Linked DNA regions of Homo sapiens: region 1 is linked to region 2. Evidence: fine-mapped expression QTL. A gene starts in region 2. The other region holds a variant in brackets. All regions are shown on one strand. Distances are between the middles of the regions. Region 1 overlaps WDR19 (WD repeat domain 19). Region 2 holds the start of WDR19 (WD repeat domain 19).

The links. PIP is the estimated chance that this variant, and not a neighbour inherited with it, causes the effect. A credible set is the group of variants that fine-mapping cannot tell apart.
Region 1: its variant is the best candidate, but not a certain one, in a credible set for the expression of WDR19 in whole blood (INTERVAL, PIP 0.66).

Annotation. Positions count from the first base shown.
Region 1 is chr4:39,266,574-39,274,890 of GRCh38, reverse strand. It overlaps WDR19 (WD repeat domain 19), which reads right to left. Exons shown (of 37, transcript NM_025132.4): 30 at 6,800-6,896; 31 at 4,791-4,915; 32 at 1,830-1,911; 33 at 1-83. Among named protein-coding and RNA genes, the nearest start is that of WDR19, 88 kb to the right of the region's middle. The variant A/G (reference allele first, on the strand shown) is at 4,598.
Region 2 is chr4:39,177,877-39,186,213 of GRCh38, reverse strand. It overlaps WDR19 (WD repeat domain 19), which reads right to left and starts at 3,685. Exons shown (of 37, transcript NM_025132.4): 1 at 3,651-3,685; 2 at 397-488. The coding sequence starts at 3,656. RefSeq lists enhancers at 2,647-2,716, 3,417-3,566, 3,691-3,985, 3,837-4,016.

The DNA of each region.
Region 1 (8,317 bases), 89 kb before region 2:
CATAGCTGCGAAGCTGAAAGCAGAGTTCTTCAGGCCTGCCCTGTGACACTCAATCACAGTTGACGTCAGGATGGGTACAATGTCTGCAAGAGAAAAGGGGAGAGCAGCAACAGCACAGTGTCTGCTGTCCTCAGTGATACAGGCGGGATTCCACCCTGGTTCTGTAGGAAAACAGGGTCATGGTCTCTGAACTTTGCTTTTTCTGCAAAGAACCAGATATGATCTGTTTAATGAGGAAAGTACGTAGCTGTGGGGTCAGGCTAACTGCCCATCAAGTGCTTTTCCTTTGATGACACCATGTTCTGCCTTGTAACACTAGGACCTGCACCCCTTGAGGCAACACTTCCATGAGTTTCCTTTCATGCCTCTTAGATATTTTTTGCATCTGACAGGACTGCTGATAAAAGCATTAGGGGGATTAATGACTTTATACACTAATCTCTCTGCAGGCATCAAATTCTTTCTTCAGGACAGACACCCAGAATTACCGGCTCAAAAACAGGACCTTTTAAAAAATACTCTTACCACAAATTGCCAAACTGCTTTCTGCAAAGGCCATACCAATTTCCATCCCCACCAGCAGTCATGAGAGTGCCTGTCCTATCCCATACCTTGCCCGCATGGTAGACTTTGATGTAACAACAACAAAAATACACTTAGAGAATGTGGGTTGGCCAATTATGACCCATGGACCAAATCTAGCCCTCTGACTTTTTGTATGGTCCATGAGCTAAGGATGATTTTTACATTTTTAAATGGTTGAAAAAACATCAAAAGAAAAATATTTTTGTGACATGTTAAAAGTGTATGTGGTTAACATTTGTGTCCAAACATAAAGCTCTATTGAAACACAGTCATGCCCATTCGTTTACGTATTATTCATGAGAAGATGGCAGAGTTGAGCAGTTGTGACAGAGGCCACATGTCTCACGAAGTCTAAAATATTTAACATCTGGTCCTTTACAGAAAAAGTTTGCTGATCCCTGTCATGTAATGTGACAGTATTTAATCACTTAAGAATGTTATCATGACATGTCTTTTGGAATAGTGAGGCCTTTTCAGAGGCAACGTCCTACCGTGCTTGTGAACACAGAGTCAGGCTATTATTAGCTGACAATGTGATCTTGGGCAAATGTTATTTCTTTTGTCCCAGTTTGTTCAGAAAAGTACTTGTGTGTGCAGGCCTGAGACTGTCATCCTTGGAAAGGCTTGAACAGCTAACCCTCGGCTCGCATCTGGAACATAGATTTGGAGACGGTTCCCACCGTTTCCAGAACTGATGAGTGGCTCACCGTGCCTAAAATCTTTGTACAAACAACGTGGTTTATGCCGAACACCTGCTCTCTGGGAGCCTGGAAAACTGGGCACATGCCACGCAGGGGGCACCTATGTGACCACACCCCAATAAAACTCCTGGCTGCTGAGTCTCTAATGAGCTTCTTGGCACTCTACGTTTCACCATGTTGTACAAGTCAGTCGTGGAGGAGTTACGGAACTTGCGTCCTGTGTGCTCCACTGGGAAGGGACTCTTGGAGGTCCGTGCCTGCACCTGCTCGCCTTTGCGTGAATCCTTCTGCTCATTTTGCCTCAGATCCTTTTGCTGTGATAAATCTCGGCTTTGGTACTACTGTGTGTTGACTCTTGTAAATCCTCCCAGTGAAGAGTCATCAAACCTGGGAGTGGTCTTGGGGCCCTGACATACCACTTCATGGAGCTGCTGTGAGAATTAAACGAGTTAGTGTATGAGGGGAGCCTGCAAAAGGGGCGCTGGGCTAGCATGCGGCATGGGGCATGGGGCATGGGTGAGAGCTCTGGTCAGTGGTACTTACGTGATGGAAATTTGCTGATGTTGTTGGCCACCCGAATGAGCATGCGAGCCCCTTTCATGTGATCTCCATTTTTAACATGAATCTGAAACAAATGACATATTTTACTCTTCTTATAGTCATTGATTAGCCCCAATTCATGCTTTGTTCCCCCAAATAAACAACTCCTTGATGATGGCCCAGGGTCACTGTGGGATCCTTGTAGACTTTCCTGGCTGATGCCATTAGAGATCCCTCCACTTTTTTCTCTTCAACAGCTACTGCCTGGCCCCATGGCCTCACCTACTCTATGCTCTGCTTTTCACTTTGCCCTAGACCACTTGGTATGGGTTCAAATCCCCAGTCTATCTCTTACTGGCCATTCTTGGGGGACCAACTTCACCAAGTTCTGGTAAGACCCAAAAGCTGTGTGAGTCAGGAATCAGGTAGAGAGAGAGAGAATGATCTGCTAAAGGAAAGGCGCCGTGTCTGTGCTAAGAGGGCAATGACGGGCAGAAGGCCTGAGACTGGGCAAGGACCAGGAGGGTCAGTGACACATCGAGGGGTGCGTTTAGGATGGGGTGAGCCTCGAGAGTCAGCAGGGGCCAGGACATGAAGCCACTGCAGTCATCCAGGGGTGAGACAAGGAGGCCAAAAAGGTGGGGCAGTGGGGATGGAGAGAAGCAGACAGATGTGGGGTCAGGGCTGAGGATACTTGGTGAGAGTGTGGAATGATGCCAACCCTTGGGGCCAGAGAAAAAGAAAAGGACTCAAGAAGCACCCCTGTGGCTTATGGTGCTAGAAAGCTCTGTTGCAAGAGGGCCTCTTATAGGAATTCCTATTTTTGCCCCGCATCTTTCACCAATGTGTTTCTGTGCCCCCTGCACTCCTAAAGACTCCATTTTGTTAGATTCTGTGCTTCCAGGACATTGAATCACCACTCATGTCTGCAGCTGAGAAAGACTTCTCTCCTTCAAACCCCCTTCTTTATGGAAGAAGGATCCTCCTGCCTCTCTGAAGGGAAGTGTACTCCTGGAGGTTGCAAGTTATAACTCCAGATGCATTTCCCTTAGAATCAGCATTATAGACCTGTGCAGTCTCCTGTGGTAGGCATTAATCACGTATGGCTACTTAAATTTAAAAGTTAAAATCATATACAATTAAAAATGTAGTTTATCAGCTGTACTAGCTGCATTTCAAGTGCTCCATAGCCAGGTTAGTGGCTACCATATTGGGCAGTACAGTATAGAATAGTTCTATCACTGTAGAACATTCTACTGGACAGTGCTGATATAGACAATAATTAGGATGTAAATCATTCATAACATGACTGCTCTTGTGGACAGGTCAGAGAACCAATTTAGCATTAATACGGAAAGATGTACTGCGACATAAATGAATATTTGAAAAAATATGTAAGTTGGAGTCTGCCTGTATCTTTACAGAGATATGTATATATATAAATGTACACATGAATATACATGACATTTATGTAAGTTGTATTGTGTCTTTTTTTAGAGTTGAGGTCTCGCTCTGTTGCCCAGGCTGGAGTGCCATGGTGTGATTATAGCTCACTGCAGCCTCAAACTCCTGGGCTTAAGTGATCCTCCTGCCTTGTCCTCCCAAAGTACTGGGATTACACGTGTGAGCCACCATGCCCAGCCTCATTTATGTAAATTATACATACAAGTACTTGATGTTTGCAGGATCTATTTTTGTTTGTATTGATAATTACTGATTTAAAAAACAGAATATACACAACTAAACATAATCCCAATTTGGTAAAAAACATGCATTTATAGAAGTACAAAGAATATATACAACACTATTAACAATTGTTATATCTGGGTGATGGACTTAAAGGACGAATTTTTAAAAAATTCTTTTCTGGCCGGGCACAGTGGCTCACGCCTGTAATCCCAGCACTTTGGGAGGCCGAGGCAGGTGGATTGCCTGAGGACAGGAGTTCGAGACCAGCCTGGCCAACGTGGTGAAACCCCATCTCTATTAAAAATACAAAAAAATTAGCCGGGTGTGGTGGCATTTGCCTGTAATCCCAGCTACTCAGGAGGCTGAGGCAGGGGAATTGCTTGAAGCAGGGAGGTGGAGGATGCAGTGAGCCAAGATCGGGCCACTGCACTCCAACCTGGGTGACAGAGTGAGATTCCATCTCAAAAAAAAAAAAAAAAATTCTTTTCTATATTTTTTAAACTTTCTTAGGGAATATGTATTATTTTTATATTTGGATGAAAACTAAACAATATTTACAAAACAGTGGAATTTTATGAAATCCACTAACAGAATAAATAAACTAACAAGTTTTGCATAAAGAAAGATGTTTTAAGTAAATCTATTTTTCTGGCACAGGCAATACATTTACATGTTTCAAAATCAAAACAATATAAGAAAGCTGAGCGTGGTGGCTCATGCCTGTAATCCCAGCACTTTGGGAGGCCAAGGCGGGCGGATCACTTGAGGTCAGAAGTTTGAAATCAGCCTGGCCAACATGGTGAAACCCCATATCTACTAAAAATACAAAAAAATTAACTGGGTGTGGTGGTGTGTGCCTGTAATCCCAGCTACTTGGAAGGCTGAGGCAGAAGAATTGCTTGAACCTGGGAGGCAGAGGTTGCAGTGAGCCGAGGACGTGCCACTGCACTCCAGCCTGGGTAAAGAGCAAGACGTCGTCTCAAAAACAAAACAAAACAACCCACACACTATAATAAGATGCACATGATGAAGCCTGGTCCCCCTCATCTCCCCGTCTCCCTGTCCCCACACTGGAGTTTGGT[A/G]CTGTGCCTCCTGCCCCGTGCCTCATTCCACACAAAGCAGCGTATTGTAGATATGTTCTGTATCTTGTTTTGTTACTTAACAATACAGACATCTAGACAATCACTCGAATCCAATGGAGAAGGGCCTGGAGAAAATCTCAATGGGGGACAAACACCTGGCAGGTTATGTCCCAAGTCACTCCATGGGCCTCACCTTTACTAGTATATAGCTGTGCAGAATCATGAGGTTGGTGGCCATCTCGGAGGGAATTTTGATCTTCTGGGATTTCAGTTCTGCATACATACTGAAGAGAACATCGTGTGCATTCCGGTAGTTGCCTTGAAAAAAGGTGGTAAAACGACATTACTGCAAAGGGTGACATCTGAGGACATTCTATGGACCCCCATCTTACTAGTGGATTTTGTTAATCTTGTTATTAGTAATCTCTTAATAATGTCTTATTCAAAGCAACTCAGCAGATTTCCTATTTATCTGTCTGTCTGTCTGTCAGAGATAGGGTCTCGCTCTGTCACCAAGGCTGGAGTGCAAGGGCACAATCTCTGTTCACTGCAACCTCTGCCTCTCAAGCTCAAGTGATCCTCCCATGCCTGGGTAATTTTTGTGTTTTTTGTAGAGACAAGGTTTTCACCATGTTGCCCAGGCTGGTCTCAAACACCTTGGCTCAAGAAATCCACCCTCCTCGGCCTCCCAAAGTGCTGGGATTACAGGCATGAGCCATTGTGACCGGCCAGATTTCCTATTTTAATTGATGTTATGAACATCTAGCCAGTTGCTCTGGTGAAAAATGGTGGTGTCCTCCTTGATGTCTTACTCTTCCTCAGGGCACCCCCCTGGCCCTGAAGTCCACCAGGCCATGGAGTTCTGAGTATAACTCTCAGTCTCCCAATTCCAGCCTCCCTTCCCATGCCTACTGTGAATGCTTCTCATCATTTCCTTCTGCTGTAGTGCTCATCAGGATTGCTCTGGGCCCACATCTGATGTCAGAGTATGCCTTCAAAACCCTCAAGCCTTGATCCACACCCAAACAACTCAAGGTCACACCCCTGCATAAAACCCTCCAATGGCGCCACTCACGCCTGGAAGTGCAAATTCCTGAGCAGAGGACTTGTGCCCTTCAGGATCGGCCTCTGCGCTCCTTTCTGGCCTGATTTTCCCTCCCTTTCTTCTCCAGGTGTGTAAATGCTGCAGCCTTGCCAGCACTTTTCCTCATCCCAGCACTTCCCCACCTCCCCATTTCCCCAAATCCCAGCACTCTGGCTCCCAGCAACCTCCACTCCCCTCGTCACCTGCTCCCCCATCCTTTCAAAACTCAGGTAAAGCTTTCATTGCCTTCTCTCGTCTCCATCCTCCAACTCTCCCTACCCCAACCTTCAGGATGCTGTGGGTAACCCAGCAGTCGCTCTTATTTTAATTGTGCCTTTTCAGCCTATTTCTCTTTCTAGTCTGGCACTTGTCATCCCGTCCAACTCTGAATTTACTTTCTGTCTCTCCCATCAAATCATGACCTTGAGGGTTGAACTGTGGCTCAGTTCTCTCTGTATCCTGAGCTCCTAGCACGCATCTGACAGGAAGAAGGTGTTGTTAGATCAACGTAAGCTGAATAAAGTAATGACTTATTTGACTGCATATTTTCCAAAATTGTGTCCACATTTATAAAGATTTAAGAAGATCAGCTCATAAAAATTAATGAAGATATCAGACTAATCCTCTTACTCACTCAATAAGTATTGACAGAGCACATGTGAGCAGAACCATCCTGAAGAGTCTATCAAGCCTCTGCATATTATAAAGAACTAGGTCTGTAACAGCACCGCATCATTACCCTCCATCGCCTAATGTCTCATATTGTTAAGGCCAAACACAGGGAATGGAAAGAAAATGCCGTGAGACTGTAGGAAGGGGGTTGTGGGCTGGAGGGGTGAGAGGAGACATCATTCATGAGACAGAACCTCTGAGGTTGTGGGGGAGAGGAAATAGCACTTGACAAGAGATGGTCTTAGTCTCTTACATTTATACAGTCTCCTGGGATAGTACATTGTTTAACCCCTCTGAAACCTAGAAATGGTCATCTCTTTAGTCTTTTGGGTTCAAAGCAAGCCTATGTTACAAACGTAGGGGCTACTCTTTCCTACACAGAAAAGGGGCTGGGGCTTGATTCTGCTGCCTGCTTGGGAAGTAACACATACGTATCACGGACCTACCTGCAGACTGCTCTTCTCTGGCAATGATGATGGCAGTCTGGGCAGCTTCTCGGTATTGCTTCAGAGCCATGTACAAGCGGAACAGGTACTTGGCATCCTGACACATAAACCATTATAGAAACATTACTTTCTTCATTAGCTAAGGGGAGATTACATTTTTGTATTGCAGTTAGAATCACATTCATCTGCCAGTAACTGAGAATTGATATTGCTTTAAAAACTCAATGAATAAAGAATTCGTTTATTTATTAAACATTTATTCAGAGCTCAATATGGCCAGGTGGTATTCTAAGTACTTGAGAAATACTAATGCATTTAAATCCTCATACCCACCCTAGGAAGAAGGCACTATTGTTATCCCGATTTCACAGATAAGAAGCTGAAACAACAGGAGGGGGCCAGTCAGGATTTGAACCACAGGATCTGAGTCTATTCCTGACCCTACTCCACAGAGTATTTCTCATGTACTTGGAAACAAAATATATTCTTACATGATATATGAACTTTGCAAACTTTCCATAATTTTTATATGCATATCAATTTTCTCTGACCTATAACATTTTCTTTGGCCTTTGGCCATTTTCCATTCCTATTCCAACTCTAGACAGCTGCGAGCATCTGACGCTGGTTTTCAAATTATTGGAATAAGTGGACACCATGGGAGGTGGCTGGAGCAGTTGAAGGGCCTGTATCCTTTGGCAAGTTAACTGAGCTGCTCTGGGTCTCTGTGGCTTTATCTGTAAGATGCAGAAAATGGACTCAGGGACCACTACGGTCCTCTCCAGCTGTGACATTCTATTGCCCTCGTTTCCAATCAGTGACTTGAGTTCTTCACCAGCAAATCTCCTTGAACATAAAGCAAAGGGGAAGGAGGTCTGGGGCATTCTCAAAGGTGTGTGGGTCTCTCCTCACCAGGACTGGGAGAAGATGGACGTTCTGTAGGAAGCCACAGTGAGTCGCATATTTTGAAAATATGCTTGTAATGATTTCTTTCTTACTTTTTCTTTTTGAGATGGAGTCTCACTCTGTCGCCCAGGCTGGAGTGCAGTGGCACAATCTCGGTTCACTGCAACCTCTGCCTCCTGGCTTCAAGCAATTCTCCTGCCTCAGCCTCCTGAGTAGCTAGGACTATAGGCGCATGCCACCATGCCTGGCTAATTTTATATTTTTTGTAGAGACGGGGTTTCGCCATGTTGGCCAGGCTAGTCTCCAACTCCTGACCTCAAGTGATCCACCCGCCTTGGCCTCCCAAAGTGCTGGGATTACAGGCATGAGACACCGCGCCTGGCCAATTTATTTCTATTTTATGTTATAGAGAACTACCTTTATGCTTAATCTGATTTTTGTTAACTTCCATAATTTTTGAAATGTAAACAAAGCACCCTCTGAGTTTTAGAGATGAATGCTAGGTCATAGTTGCAACATCAGTGATCTTTTTTCATAGTTCCTAGAATAAACAAAATTATAACATTTGAGAAAAATTGTATGTGGTGAGGATTGTTATCTAGAGGGGCATGG
Region 2 (8,337 bases):
GCCACTGCACCTGGCCTAAATGTTTCTTTCATTTATCTATGTATATAAAGCTGCCATCCAAATGATTTCAGTGTTTTCTCCTGATAGTTTCAGAATTTGCATAAAAAGTTATTACCAGGGAAAAGGTTCTATGAACTTTCATGTTAATGGAGATGAATATATTCCTTTTCCTGTCATATAACTGTTAGACAAAAACTTTTACTGAGGCCAGGTTCACTTGAACCTGGGAGGCGGAGGTTGCAGCAAGCTGAGATCGTGCCACTGCACTCCATCCTGGGCAACAAAGCTAGACTCCATTTAAAAAAAAAAAACAACAACAAAAAAAACTTCTACTGAGTAGATGGTGTGATTACATGGGCATGCAACCACTGCTTAAAACATTCATTGGTTTCTTACCCTGTTACTGCAAGGTAGTTTCCTGATGTTTTTTGCCAGGCAAACTGTATTGGTGCGCCAAGCCAAGTCTTTTCTAGCAGTGAGAAAATACGCTAAAAAATAAACACAATTTTTAATATTTTCAAAACATACAATCAAGTGTTGATCAGAAAAGGTATCAAAACATGGTCATGAAAACCATGTTTTCATAGGATTCAGGATAGTGAGGATTATGTTAGAGCTTATCTAGAAGTTAACAACAAAAGAAATAAAACAAAATCAACCAACCAACTAAACATACACAACTACTTGGTAAATTACAGATCTCAAGATATAGGAGGGCTTTTATTTTAAATTTTTTTTGGCTTTTTAATGTTTCTGAATGTTAATTTTACAAAAATATGTAATTTTAGTGTTTTGTAGATGTTAAAGACTAAAATAATTGAAGCCTGAATTCAGTTAATTATCTGTGGCACGGATTCCTGGTGATTAAACTGAACAAAAATTGCTATCTTAAACATGATAAAAACACAAAATGTCTTTACTCCTTTCAACATTATTTTCTTCTATTAGTTCCATTAGTTATATTTACATCATCATTAAGTGTTTAACTTGGCTACTGGGTGAATAGTGTTATCAACTGAAAACTCTTTCTTTTCCTTGAAACAATCAAGAAACGTGATGTCCAATATGGAGGCTACAAACCACATGTAGCTATTGAGGACTTGGAATATAAGTAATCCCAACCTAGCTGTGCTGTAAATATAAAATGTATATCAGATTTCAACAACTGGAAAAAGAATGTAAACTATCTCGTTGTTAATTTTTATATTGATTACATGTTGAAATAACATTTTTGATATACTGGGTAAGATAAAATATATTATTAAAATAAATTTTACCTGTTTTCTTAAAAAATTTTAATGGTCAATAAAAATATGAAATTACATTAGCTCACAGTACATTTATATCAGACAGTGTTGATCTAGAACATTTAGGAATATGAGTTTCAGTGAAAAAATTTAGATTTCAATATTAGGTTAAATTATAGATTAAACAATGATGCCCATTTCTAGGCATATGAAATTTAGATACTGTTACACGGGACTTAGTCTGTGCGGCAACACAAAACTCTTACAATGCTCAAAATTAAACACCGCCTGGCCAACATGGCGAAACCTCGTCTCTACTAAAATTACCAAAAAATGAGCTGGGCATGGTGGCGCTTGCTGTAATCCCATCTACTTGGGAGGCTGAGGCACGAGAATCCCTTGAACCCGGGAGGTGGAGGTTGCAGTGAGCCGAGATGGTGCCACTGCACTCCAGCCTGGGTGACAGAGCAAGACTTCGTCTCAAAATAAATAAATTAACAACCAACAACCAAACACAAAGCAGTGAGGTTGTTTATTTTTATTTTTATTTTTTTTTAGACAGCGTCTTGCTCTGTCGCCCAGGCTCTGGAGTGCAGTGGGGCGATCTTGGCTCACTGCAACCTCCGCCTCCTGGGTTCAAGCGATTCTCCTGCCTCAGCCTCCCGAATAGCTGGGATTACAGGCACACGCTACCACGCCCGGCTAATTTTAAAAATATTTTTGGTAGAGACAGGGTTTCACCATGTTGGCCAGGCTGGTGTCGAACTCCTGACCTCAAGTGATCCACCTGCCTCGGCGTCCCAAAGTGCTGGGATTACAGGCGTGAGCCACCGCACCCTGTCCCAATGAGCATTTTACATGCTAAAGAAGAAATTCCCCTCTATTGAAAGTAGAGGTGGGCTATGATCATGGGACATAAAAGTTTTATAGAGCATAAAGAAACTCATGAAGAAAGAATATTTAAAAGCATCTTACTTTTGCAATTTTGTGACCATTTCACCCTGGAACTCCTTCATGCAAGTGAGAAGTCCTTAAACTTGAATTTCATTACCTTCAATGGCTGACTTGCCTCTAGCTGTGATTTCATATTATTTTTTTTCAGTGGAGCTCTATAGATGCTCCACATACCGTGCAGAGGAAAAACTGCTAGTTTCACAACCAAAAAACCAAGACTTAAATTTTGTTTGTAGCTTATTAGCTGTAGGGCTTTAAGTAAGTCGTTTAAATTGCCTCCAGCAAAAAATTCTCAACTGTAAATCATGAATAATAACTCTTCACTTCTAATATTTCATAAATTGTAAAGAGCTTTAGAAATAAAAATGGGAGTTATGATTACTGGTCCGTCAATTCCAATTTCCACACTAATAGCCACGAAGAAGCATGAGGACATCTAAAATAATTTTAAAATTGAGCCTTCCAGCCGGGCGCGGTGGCTCACGCCTGTAATCTCAGCACTTTGGGAGCCCGAGGTCGGGGGATCATGAGGTCAGGAGAGTGACAGCATCCTGGCTAACACGGTGAAACCCCATCTCTACTAAAAATACAAAAAATTAGCTGGGTGTGGTGGCACGCGCCTGTAGTCCCAGCTACTCGGGGGGCTGAGGCAGGAGAATCGCTTGAACCCAGGAGGTGGAGGTTGCAGGGAGCAGAGATTGCGCCACTGCACTCCAGCCTGGGTAACAGAGCGAGACTCAGTAAAAAAAAAAAAAAAAAAAAGCCTTCCATTTCTTTGCCAGAGCAGAGCAAGGGGGGACTGCTCTGATAAATCAGAAAGTGGGGTGAACAAGAAGCCCAAGCCTAGAAACCGTGCGTGCAGAGGATGAGGCACATGAGCGTGAGACCTGAGTTTTCGGGTGCAGATTTCCCGTCAATAATGTACACTCGCTAGCAGGTGATTGGACTGGTCACAGGTAATACATTTTGAAGTTATTCTTTAGGAGGCTTTTCATTCTTTTTAAGGCGCTGGGCAGCTGCGCGGCTTGCCAGAGGCTTAGCCCCAAGAAATGAGGTAGCTCGTGACATCGGACCCAGTCAACTTCACAGCGACCCTCCAAACGCGTTAACTCGACCAGTTCTTTCCGCGTGCGAAGCTGGGGTATCTTTAGATCCAGTCCGCTCATTTCGGCCAGGGAGGGGTTCCCACTTTCTGCACCGCTTCTACGGCGTCTGCAGTCCCCAAAACGAGAGGCCTCTCTCTCCGCCCTCTCCTCTCCTCCTATTTTCTTTCCTTTCTCTCGTCCCTTCAGCTTCGCCCCCGCTCTCTCTGGCCACCTCTCTCTCTCTCTCTCTTCCTCATTTCCAACGAACTCAGAAGGGAGAGGGACAGATATCCTCTTTTAAAAGCGACCAAGGGCCAGTAGTCGCGTTTTCCCGCCCCACCCCGGGAATTTGTAAGTTATTTACCTTCATCTCCACGCTCGAGCCGCTACGCGAACTATGAAGTACGCAGGCGCACCCGGTCTCCACCAAGCAGGCTACCGCGTTCCCGTCACCCAGGAGACCGCGCGAGCAGCGACCAATCAGCGAGTGCTAATTGAAAGGCGGTGCCTCGAGGGGCCGGGCCAAGCGCACCGCCCTCTGCGAGGGTGGGTGAGAGGCGGAGGGTGGAATCACATGACATCAGAGACGCTAACCCTGGGAAGTTGGGCGTCGCGAGGCCTTGCTGAGCCTCGGCTTCCTGGCTGGCTCTGATTGGATGAGATTCGTCCGGGAGAGACGGGCTCTGTGAGCCCTCAAAGGCGCGTGCGTAAATTTTGGACCGCGATGACTAAGATGTCAGTGCTGGCCAAAGGGGGCGCCGAGAAGCTGAAGGAAAGAAGACGCAGAATGTTAGATTAAAGGAGGCAGGATGGGCTAAATACTCCTATACAGTCCACGCAAAGAGGGGTTGGACGAGCTCGGGTATATCTTTTTTTCTTCCAGGTTTCTGGGGTAGAAGGGAGGAGGCATAAGAGGTACAATAGTTTATTTCAAGGTAGGGTTGTTGGTGCTTTTTTTTTTTCAGTTTCACCAAAATCTTTTTTTTTTTTCAATGTCAACAAAATGTGCTAGCTAACGTGGGCAGGAAAAATGAGCTCCAATAGTTTTCCTTTAGAGTTTGGATCTGGCAGCTTTTCCCCAAGTATAAAGCCCTGTTGTACAGTATTTGTGCTGCATTATTTATAGCATGAAAGTGCATCTTTTACCCAAGCGTCTGAAAGTGTTGAAACAGTCTACCTTTTGCTTTTCTTTTCGACATCAGGTAGGAATCTGATTGGCTTAGAGAAAGTTAATCAATGATTTGAAATAACTAATAATGAATGTTTGCAAATTCTTAAGTAGGGTGCTATGCCTTTGCACTGGGGTTTTCAGTTACGTTACGACAGGGGTCCGGATCCAGACCCCAAGAGAGGGTTCTTGGATCGCGCGCAAGAAAGAATTCAGGGCGAGTTCTCAGTGCTGAGAAAAGCAAGTTTATTAAAACACGTAAAGTGGTGAAAGGACAGCTACTCCATAGACAGAGTAGGACATTCCTGAAAGCAAGAGAAGGGACGCATCCACCCTAGGTACAATGCTTGTATATATGGGGAGATGTGCTCTGCTACAAGGGTTTGTGATCAAAGATTAATTTTCTTAATTATTTTGCAGGAATTGATATTATTATCTTTAAAGCAAAATTAGGAATGCCTTTGTTCTCCAGATATCCCGATATCTGGGTCTGTTTTAGTAAACATTATTAATTTATTCCCTTAATCGTAAACATCTAGAGGCGAGGAATGCCCAAATTCTGAGAATTCAGCCCAGCAAGTCTCAGCCTCATTTTCCTAGCCCTCACTCAAAATGGAATCGCTCTGGTTCAAACGCCTCTGACAGTTAGGTTAATTACTTAAATTTTTACTGAAAGATTCCTCTGCTGAAAGGGTAACCATTTAAAAATAGCCAGAGCAATCAGTTCTTAACAAGACCTGCCCTCAGGAGAAAGTATTTTTACCAAAGCCTAGTCTGCTGGGGTTTTATCAGAGCCTAAACTACCTGGGAGAAGGGAAATACTCAACTTCAGCCTCCATAAACCATCCTGTTCCACTTAAGTGTGGGAGATTAAGAAGTATTGGCGGGCGCCTGTAGTCCCAGCTACGCGGGAGGCTGAGGCCGGAGAACGGCGTGAACCCGGGAGGCGGAGCTTGCAGTGAGCGGAGATCGCGCCACTGCACTCCAGCCTGGGCGATAGAGCGAGACTCCGTCAAAAAAAACAGCAAAAAGAAGTATTGGTGGCCAGGCTCAGTGGCTCACGCCTGTAATCTCAGCACTTGGGGAGTTCGAGGTGGGGGGCTCACTTGAGGTCAGGAGTTCAGGACCAGCCTGGCCAACATGGTGAAACCCCGTCTTTACTAAAATACAAAAAATTAGCTGTGCATGGTGGTGGGCACCTGTAGTCCCAGCTGCTCGGGAGGCTGAGGCAGGGGAATCGCTTGAACCCGGGAGGGGGAGGTTGCAGTGAGCCTAGATCGTGCCACTGCACTCCAGCCTGGCGACAGAGCAAGGCAAGACTCTGCTCAAAAAAAAAAAAAAAAAAAAAAAATTAGCCTGGCGTGGTGGCACATGCCTGTAATCCCAGCTACTCGGGAGGCCGAGGCATGAGACTCGCTTGAACCTGGGAGGCAGAGGTTGCAATGAGCCGAGATTGTGCCACTGCACTCCAGCCTGGTGACGGAGCTAGACTTCGTCTCAAAAAAAAAAGGAAGTACTGGTGACTTTTACCATCCACACCGGCTCACTAAAGGCTGAGGCCTAATCATAGGACTATAGAACACTTGCCCTATCCTGTACCTTACCACATACCACTAAAAGACTACTTACAAGTATTCCTTTTATCCAGTATATCCTGTCTGGTGTCTTAGTTGTTTTCTGTTGTTTATGACAGAATACATAAAACCGGGTAATTTATAAAGAAAAGGAACTCATTTGTCATAGTTAGGGAGACTGAGAAGTCCAAGGTCAAGGGAGTGCATCTGGTGAGATCCTTCTTGCTGGTGCGGACTCTCTGAAGAGTCCTGAGGCAGCACAGGATATCACATGGCAAGGAGGCTGAGTGTGCTAACGTTCTAGCTAAGGTCTCCTTATAAAGCCACCAATTTCACTCCCATGATAACCCACTAATTCATTAACCCATTAATCCCTGAATCTTTGAATGAATTAATCCATTCATGAAAGCAGGGCACACAGGAACCATTTGCCTCTTAAAGGCCCCAACTTTCAATATTGCCACATTGGTGATTAAGTTTCAACATGAGCTTTGGAGGGGACATTCAAACCATAGCATCCAGATTTCAACAAAAAATTACAAGGCATACTAAAAGGCAAAAAACACTGCTTGAAGAGACTGAACAAGCAGGAGAACTAGAGTCATATATAGCAGGAGTGTTGAAATTATTAGACCAGGACTTTAAAAAAAAAATAAGATGAATGTGCTACTGGAGGTAATGGAAAAAGTAGACAACATGCAAGAGCAGATGGAAAACACAAGCAGAGAGATAGAAATTCTAATAAAGACTCAAAAAGAAATGCTAGAGATCAAAAACACTAACAGAAATGAAGAATGCTCATGATTAATTTCCCCCAAGTTCATGTCTGACAACAAATCACACCTCCTGGAAGCTCAGAGAACTCCAAACAGGATAAGTGCTCAATAAACCACACCTAGGCATATCATATTTAAACTTTGAAAAATAAAATATTTTTCAAAAATCGTGAAAGAAGCTGAGGGGAGGGGGGCATTATGTATAGAGGAGGTAAGATAAGAATTACATTGAATTCTCAGAAACCATGAAAGGAAGAAGAGAGCGGAATAAAATATTTAAAGTGTTGAGAATTTTTTTTAAACCCACAAATCTAGAATTCTGTATCCTGTAAAATTATCCTTCACAAGTGAAGGAGTCCACTCCTCATTGATTAGATGCCAAACTCAAAATGGCTAACTTTGGTGAAAGGATCTTGACCTGCCTTTTTTCAAACTGGAACTGTTCTTGCCATGCATTTTCCTCCTGACTCAACAGTAAAGCTACTTTAGTTCTAAGTGTTTTGATACCACAAGGATGTAGTGGTCAGTAATCAGATCAAGACTTGAAAAAAAGAGTATTTCATGTAAACATTATTTGGGGGTTACTCAAACAATACTAGTGATTTATGATTTAATGTAAAACACACACACACATTTTTACAGAAACACTATATGAGGATTCAAATCCCTGAATATCAGTAAATGGGATTGAGAAATATTTTTGTGTAAGGATGAGGAAGTTGATCCTGTACTATGAAGGAGGTACAGTTGTTTCATGTAGACTTAAAAATGTTTTAATGTGTTTCATGGCCAGGAGTAGCAGCTCAAGCCCGTAATCCCAGCACTTTGGGAGGCCAGAGGTGGGAGGTTCACTTGGGCCCAGGAATTTGAGAATGGCCTGGGCAACAAAGCAAGACCCCTTTGCTACAAAAAAAAATAAATAAATAAAAATTAGCCAGGCATGGTGGCATGTGCCTACAGTGCCAGCTACTTGGGAGGCTAAGCCAGGAGAATCCTTTGAGGGTATCACATGGCATTCAAGGCTGCACTGAGTTATGATCACGCCACTGTGCTCCAGCCTGGGTGACAGAGTGAAACCCTGTCTCAAAAAAAAAAAAGTGTTTTATGTTTTTTATACTGTTTTTAACTAAAGTTATAAAAATGTTTCCAACAAGTTATCTCTCCTTATGTTTTAAGAATCTAAATTATCTCAGTGAGTTGAAATAAGGGTGTTAGCAGCTTTCTAATTAGTATATAAATCTGTCCAAACAAGAGGACATCCTAGTACACAAAATAATGTCACTGTTTCAAACCAGTCTAGACCAAAAAAAATTAAAATTTTCAGAGTCAAAAATGAACATCTGAAGAGAAACTAATTCCTCCTTAAAAATAAAAGTATCTTCAAAATAGAAAAAAAAAATTCAGAATCGTTTCATAGTTTAATTGCAATATGTCACTAACAGATGGTGATTCTTCTCTTGGTAAAGATTTAAGTAAAAACTTTGATATAAAACCAAGGTAAAACATACAGTGTTCATGTAGATGTACACATGG